2 linked regions of the Homo sapiens genome follow. The protein of the gene in region 1 purifies or fractionates together with the protein of each later gene. This does not show direct contact. Each region holds a gene or a part of one and is shown in the gene's direction. Other genes may lie near its edges. The genes, in order: BDH1 and PGM3.

Region 1 (3,820 bases):
GTGCCCACGGCAGGTGACACTGGGAGTCGGGGAGATGCACAGAGGGACCCCTGGGAATGTGAGTGTTCGGGGATCAGAGGAGGGGGAGAGGCAGCTGTCAGAGAGGTTGGATACAGTTCCCCAGAGGCTAAACAACAGAAAGTTTGGAGGAGAGGGCAGTACCAGTAGCCAACAGGGTCAAAAGCTACAGAAAGTTCCAGTAGCATAAGGACTAAAATATCCTTCCAGTTCAGCCAGTGGAGGGCCTTGTGGGAGGAGCTCTGTCTGCAACCTCGGGGTGCCATTCATGTAGAATACAGCAGTGGGGGATGGAGCTCCCTGGAGCCGGGCCGCCCAGCAGCATCTGGAGAAGCGAATCTATGAAGTTTACCTTTGAGCTCCCTGACAGCCCAGGCAGAAAGGGTGTGCGTCATTCAGGCCTCTGCTTTCCCTCAGAATGGGGTGGGGCAGCTCTCAGGAGCAGCTACTTCAGTGGCTGGGGAAGGAGGCGGAAAAGGCAGGAGTGACCAGATCCCATGCGGGGAGCTCTGCTGAGCCTGTATCAGCCAGATGGATGTGCTGTCTGTCACAGCAGCTGCCTCAGAGGCTGCGTGTGTGGCTGTCGGTGATGCCGCTCCTCTGCCTGTCTCTGATGTGCCACCTCATCAGCCCACTGTCGCTCCCATCCTCCCAACAGGCCATTCACAGGCCTCTCTGTTCTCTGTTCTCGCTGAACATCTGTTTAATAATTAACAGGCAGAGCCAGCCCATTAAGAAAAGGCAGGATGGGTCCCGCTGGGGTGATTACCGGCTCAGAACCTGCAGCCTGCTTCGCCCTTCCCTGGCGGTAAATTCTCCTCCCTCCCACCTTCCCTGGGCAGCTGCTATATTTTCCTTCATAAACTACTGGGCAGGAAAACAGCTGCATCGGCACCATAAAGCCACTTGATTATAGCGTGGGTTTTGTGGTGATCTAAAATGCCCGTGGAAAGGCGTCATCACCGGAGACCCAAGCAGAGAACGCACCAGGCCGGCTTGCTCAGGCTGGCGGTCCTCGTCCCCTGCCCCCCTGACTCTGGGGCAGAATCACTTCCATTGTCTGTACTGGACTGGCCAGGCAGCCTAACCTACAAGGCAGGGTGGGCCCCGGCCCACACAGAGGGGAGGCACTCACCCCCTGCCCGGGGATCTGGGCTCCAACCCCAGCACCAGCCTGACGCGCAGACCTTTCCCTGCTGCTTTTCCCACGCCGGGCATTCCGGAGGGCTGGATGAACCTCTCACCATCAACTTCCTTAACCGATACTGCATTTTTTTTTTTTGGAAAAGGATTTGAAGACTTTTAGGTCTGAAGAAAACAGTACATCCGTCAGATATGCAGTGGCGTGTCCCCCATCTCCTGCTCTCGCTTTCTTCCCGTCTCCCTCTCCTCCCTCTCCCTGCTTCCCCTCCACACTCTGCCACTCTGCCATGTCTTGGCCTTGCCTTGGCAATTCCCCCTCAGGCAATGCCGGCTGTGAACTCCAGGGAGCACCCTCCCAGAGCGTTCCGACCCGCAGTGGCCGCCACCGACCCACACCCCATGCAGGACATGTCAGAAGGGTCCTCTTCCCCTTCTCCACCGGGGGGGCACATTTGGTTGGCGAGTTTGACGCCCTGCAGCCTGGCTCTGTGGAACAGTTGCTGCCAAAGCCCGGGGAGCCAGCCACGGGGGCGAGATGAAGGAGATTGTCTGGTGAGAGCCACAGAGCCATCTGCCACCGGCCCCGACCCCCGCAGGACGCTGAGGGACAGGACATCTGGAGCCTGGGACCAGCCCTCCCTGTCCCCACCCCAGGGGACACCGAGCCAGTGGGCCCGAGAGCAGGCCGTGGGCATGGCCTGATCTTGGCACATCACTTACCAGTCAGTCAGTCAACATTAATTAATTAATTAATTAATTTTTTTGAGACAGAGTCTTACTCTGCCGCCCAGGCTGGAGTGCAATGGTGCGATCTCGGCTCACTGAAACCTCCACATCCCGGGTTCAAGTGATTCTCCTGTCTCAGCCTCCCGAGGAGCTGGGATTACAGGCGCCTGCCACCATGCCCAGCTAATTTTTTTTTTTTTTTTAGTAAAGAAGGGGTTTCACAAGGTTGGCCAGGCTGGTCTCAAACTCCTGACCTCAGGTGATCCACCTGCCTTGGACTCCCAAAGTGCTGGGATTATAGGCCTGAGCCACCACGCCTGACCTGGGCTTCACTTATTAGAAATGTGATCTTGGGCTTGCACCTGCCCCCTGTGTGGGTCTCAGCTTGCCCATCTGTGAAGTGGGAGAGTGCTCTGAGCCGTCCAGCACTCATGCCTGGATCAGACCACTACAAGAGCATGGGAAGAATTTCAACACAAGCTGCTCGCAGGCTGACAGGCAGCAGAACATATGTGGAGGAGTAAGGGAGAAGCTTGGAAAAGGCCTGGCCTACCATGCTGTGGGATGGAGACCACAGAGCAGGAAGTGACTGATGGGGGGATCCACCTGAGGAGGGGATGGAGACCATAGAGCAGGAAGTGACTGATGGGGGGTGCCTGAGCGGGGGATGGAGACCATAGAGCAGGAAGTGACTGATTGGGGGGTCGGCCTGAGGGGGGATGGAGACCATAGAGCAGGAAGTGACTGAGGGGGGGATGGAGACCATAGAGCAGGAAGTGACTGATGGGGCGGGGAGGTCAGCCTGAGGGGGGATGGAGACCATAGAGCAGGAAGTGACTGATGAGGGGGGTCGGCCTGAGGAGGGGATGGAGACCATAGAGCAGGAAGTGACTGATGGGGGGGGTCGGCCTGAGGAGGGGATGGAGTCCATAGAGCAGGAAGTGACTGATGGGGGGGGGTCGGCCTGAGGGGGGATGGAGTCCATAGAGCAGGAAGTGACTGATGGGGGGGGTCAGCCTGAGGGGGGATGGAGACCATAGAGCAGGAAGTGACTGATGGGGGGGGTCGGCCTGAGGGGGGATGGAGACCATAGAGCAGGAAGTGACTGATTGGGGGGGTCAGCCTGAGGGGGAGATGGAGACCATAGAGCAGGAAGTGACTGATCGGGGGGGTCGGCCTGAGGGGGGGATGGAGACCATAGAGCAGGAAGTGACTGATCGGGGGGGTCAGCCTGAGGGGGAGATGGAGACCATAGAGCAGGAAGTGACTGATCGGGGAGGTCGGCCTGAGGGGGGGATGGAGTCCATAGAGCAGGAAGTGACTGATGGGGGGGGTCGGCCTGAGGGGGGATGGAGACCATAGAGCAGGAAGTGACTGATGGGGGGGGGTCGGCCTGAGGGGAGATGGAGACCATAGAGCAGGAAGTGACTGATTGGGGGGGGTCAGCCTGAGGGGGAGATGGAGACCATAGAGCAGGAAGTGACTGATTGGGGGGGTCAGCCTGAGGGGGAGATGGAGACCATAGAGCAGGAAGTGACTGATGGGGGGCGGTCGGCCTGAGGGGGGATGGAGACCATAGAGCAGGAAGTGACTGATTGGGGGGGGTCAGCCTGATGAGGAGATGGAGACCATAGAGCAGGAAGTGACTGATGGGGGGGGTCAGCCTGAGGGGGAGATGGAGACCATAGAGCAGGAAGTGACTGATTGGGGGGGTCAGCCTGAGGGGGAGATGGAGACCATAGAGCAGGAAGTGACTGATTGGGGGGGGTCAGCCTGAGGGGGAGATGGAGACCATAGAGCAGGAAGTGACTGATGGGGGGGGTCAGCCTGAGGGGGAGATGGAGACCATAGAGCAGGAAGTGACTGATTGGGGGGGTCAGCCTGAGGGGGAGATGGAGACCATAGAGCAGGAAGTGACTGATGGGGGGGTCGG
Region 2 (3,820 bases), on another chromosome or scaffold:
TTTGGGATTTCAACTTCATGAGAGTCTGGTCTTCTACTGGGTTCTGCATCTTAGATCAGCATGGGCTTTTTTTGCTCTGAAAACCGTAGCTCAATTTCTAGTTTAGAGGAATAACTTCAGAACAAAACTGGCTTCCGAACTAGCTTAGATCTTGGAGTTCTTGCCTTCGGGTATGTTTTGGCCTGATAATTCTGTCACTTTTCAGCACTGTAGTTCTTTTTAAAAGGAGGTTTTTGTCTTTTATCTAGCATGTTGGTTGTTTCCAGGAGGATGATTCATCTGAATTATGTAGTTTGCAATGTTACTGGAAACAGAACTCAATTATTACTTGTCTGTATTGCTTTATATTTACATTGTTACCTGTTTATATGTAATGATTGGTTTTTTGGCTTCTTATAGTCATTTATATTTCTTTTTAAGATCATTTTTATGTTTTCTAAGATGTCTGAGATGACACAAAAGGATTTGTCACCCTGAAATTCCTACACATGAATGCATTTAAACTTTTTTCTCTTTGTTAAGAAATGCGGTGAATTGCTTTTTGTATTTCTATGACAGATTATGGCTTGTTAACAACACCCCAGCTGCACTACATGGTGTATTGTCGAAACACGGGTGGCCGATATGGAAAGGCAACTATAGAAGGTTACTACCAGAAACTCTCTAAGGCTTTTGTGGAACTCACCAAACAGGTGAAAAGTTTATTGAACATGGTTAAAGTTAAACAAATGAATAAAGTAACATGGTCTACTGAACAAATTATCTTGTTTGTCATGCCTCCTCTTTCCTTTTCCAAAGATGCTGCATATCTCCTTTTTTGTTTTTCTCTAGGGCTACACAAGGTTCTGGTCTATGTATCCTGCTAACTTACATTGGCGTTTACTTGGCAAATTATGTAGTACATTCTGAGATACTTTGGGGAAGCAAACATGGTGGGGGTCTTGACGATGGTATCATAAGTATTCATTCAGATGAATTTGATCTTAGTTAATGTAGGTGCTGTTGGCTTAATACCTGAGGCATGTACTATTGAGATTTTCTTCTAGGTATATTGGCTTGTTAAATGTAGAGAGATTTGAGAAGTATAATTCGTTTGATCAACAAATATTGAGTATATGTCCTTACCAGGCACAATTAACTAAAAGCCCTTGCTCTCATAGAACTTATAATTTGGGGTGAGGATAGCTGGGAGAGGAGACAATTAGAAAAAAAACAAATCTGCCTGATGATGATGTCACATACTATAAAAAGAATGACATGTCATTACTGCCCATTTGTCTGTGTGCTTATTCTTGCATTTGAATGGCTCCCTTGTAATATTACTTTTAAGAGACCCTGTTAATTGAGACTAAATTCTAATAAAGCTCTATGCTATAAGTTGTTCAATCAGCAAAACTATTCTGTTGTTCCAGGTGTTTTTAAATTTTACTTTAGTGTTTTATAATTTTAAAAATTGAAAAATGAACACAATTATAATTGATAAAATTTAAAAATTAAAATGAGTTAACTAAATATTTACATATGCACATATGTATATATGCTTTATATTTCACATTTATTTTTATAACTTGAAATTTTTCTTCCATGTGTCTTTTTCCTTTGTAGGCTTCTTGCAGTGGAGATGAATACAGATCACTTAAGGTTGACTGTGCAAATGGCATAGGGGCCCTGAAGCTAAGGGAAATGGAACACTACTTCTCACAGGGCCTGTCAGTTCAGCTGTTTAATGATGGGTCCAAGGGCAAACTCAATCATTTATGTGGAGCTGACTTTGTGAAAAGTCATCAGAAACCTCCACAGGGTATGTCGTACTAGCACTGCAAAAATTTGTTTTTAATGCTCTTTGAAGCCAATCTCACTTATAAACTAAGGTGGTAAAGTGAGTTAAGAATCTTGCAGCTATTCCTGGCTCTGCCACATTTAGACATTGAGAAGTCTTCCCACTCTCAGAGCCATTGAAACATGGTCTGCTCTCTCTGCCTGTAAATCACACCATTCCTCATAGTCTACAGGAAATCAGGTGGGGAAAGCAAAGTCAGGAAATGGCATTCTAGAGCAGTGGTTCTCAAACTGGCATGTGTCAGAATCACTTTGAGGGCTTGTTAGCACACAGATTCCTGGGCTCCACTTCTGAGTTTCTGGAGGTCTGGCATAGGATTTGCATATGATAGAAATTTGCATTTCTATCAAGTTTGCAGGCTTTGTTCCCAGTGCTTGTCTGGGGATCCCTTTTTGAGAATCACAGATCTACAGGGGAGCATAGTAAGTATTATTAGATACCTTATCTGAATTAAATACACTATGGAAAGCAAATGTAACTCTGCTTATACAGTTGTTAGCAATCAGTGTTTTCCACTCAGTGCAGAATAGGAGGAAGACTTTTCTTCAGATTTTAGTTGTAGTAAGAGGTGTTCTGGATTTATCTGCATTATAGACCCTAAATTATTTGCTTAGGCCAAACCTGACTTGCAGATATGTTTTGTTTGGCTGGCTGCATTTGTGTGTTTGTCTGTGTGCCACTGTTTAAAAATTCCGTGACTTCTCTTATATATTGGAATCTCTAGCATCTCTTTACCAAAATCAGAAAATGTTCACACATGGCATTAGTCCACTACAGTCAGATAGATGCTGCTCCCCTAAAATAGGACATGCATTCTGGAACTCTACAGACTTCATCCAGTTGCCTCATTCATTCATGTTATTATGCTTTACTTAGTAAGCATTTAAAATGTCAGTGTAGTCAACCAATTTGAGCTCCTTTTCATTGAATTGCTTGTTTTGACATTTACTTGACAGTTCAGTTCTGCCACTTATTTATCCATTTCTTAAATACTGAGCTCTTACTCTCTATGCTCTAGGCTTTGGGACTACAGTATGAACAAAACCATAGTCCTTGCTTTCCTGAAGCTTGCATCATGTCCTTTCATCAATCTTATGATCCCATTCCTGACAAAAGCCTTTTACTTCTTAGTTGTCTCATGTTGAATTTGTCACTCTGCTGCTGTCATGGCTAAGGAATAGCCAAATTTTCTAATAAATTTGATGTGACAATTGCTGAGATTTCAGCAACTTTATGTAAATTTCACAGGCCAGTTATCTCTCAAAGTTATAATTCTTTGCTCTTAATTATCAGTGTTTCTTTTTATTGGTGGTATGAACAAATAAAAATCATTTCTGTTAGAATTAAAGCACATACATCATCTAGTGCTGATTATTTTTTCTATGTAAAGGAGATCACGGTCCTAGGTAAATTACATTCAGAAATACATGTAGCTTTCAAAAAACCTTTATGGGACACCTGTCTAGCCAAACCAACCTGCTTATAAAGTGGAATTTTATGGTAGTATTATAGCAAATATCAGCATAGATTTTGAATGCTCCTTTTTTCACTTTGCAGTGAAAGAATTTGACCTGTAAAAACCACTAATAAACTATGTACTATTTAAAGATTATACACTATTTAAGATTAAGACATTGATTTTTAGGTGGATAATTTTAAGAGAAAATTCTAAAACTCTTTATAATAAATTCTTAGACTGAAATGCATGTTAAATTATCCTGTGTGCTAGGAATGGAAATTAAGTCCAATGAAAGATGCTGTTCTTTTGATGGAGATGCAGACAGAATTGTTTATTACTACCATGATGCAGATGGCCACTTTCATCTCATAGATGGAGACAAGATAGCAACGTTAATTAGCAGTTTCCTTAAAGAGCTCCTGGTGGAGGTATGGTGGGGGGATTGGCTACCCTCTAAAACAAGACTTAGTAGTGAAATAGTTCCATATTTTACAATCATTTGTCAGAAGGGCACAATTTAT

Evidence for each region.
Region 2: the proteins of BDH1 (region 1) and PGM3 purify together in Homo sapiens (affinity purification with mass spectrometry, with the first as the bait; one large-scale study listed by BioGRID). This does not show direct contact.

What each region holds. Positions count from the first base shown.
Region 1 is NC_000003.12:197,517,769-197,521,588, reverse strand, and holds part of BDH1 (D-beta-hydroxybutyrate dehydrogenase, mitochondrial precursor), read left to right. Parts: intron 1-3,820.
Region 2 is NC_000006.12:83,179,717-83,183,536, reverse strand, and holds part of PGM3 (phosphoacetylglucosamine mutase), read left to right. Parts: intron 1-558; coding exon 559-692; intron 693-1,605; coding exon 1,606-1,801; intron 1,802-3,569; coding exon 3,570-3,727; intron 3,728-3,820. UniProt on the Homo sapiens protein: Catalyzes the conversion of GlcNAc-6-P into GlcNAc-1-P during the synthesis of uridine diphosphate/UDP-GlcNAc, a sugar nucleotide critical to multiple glycosylation pathways including protein N- and O-glycosylation.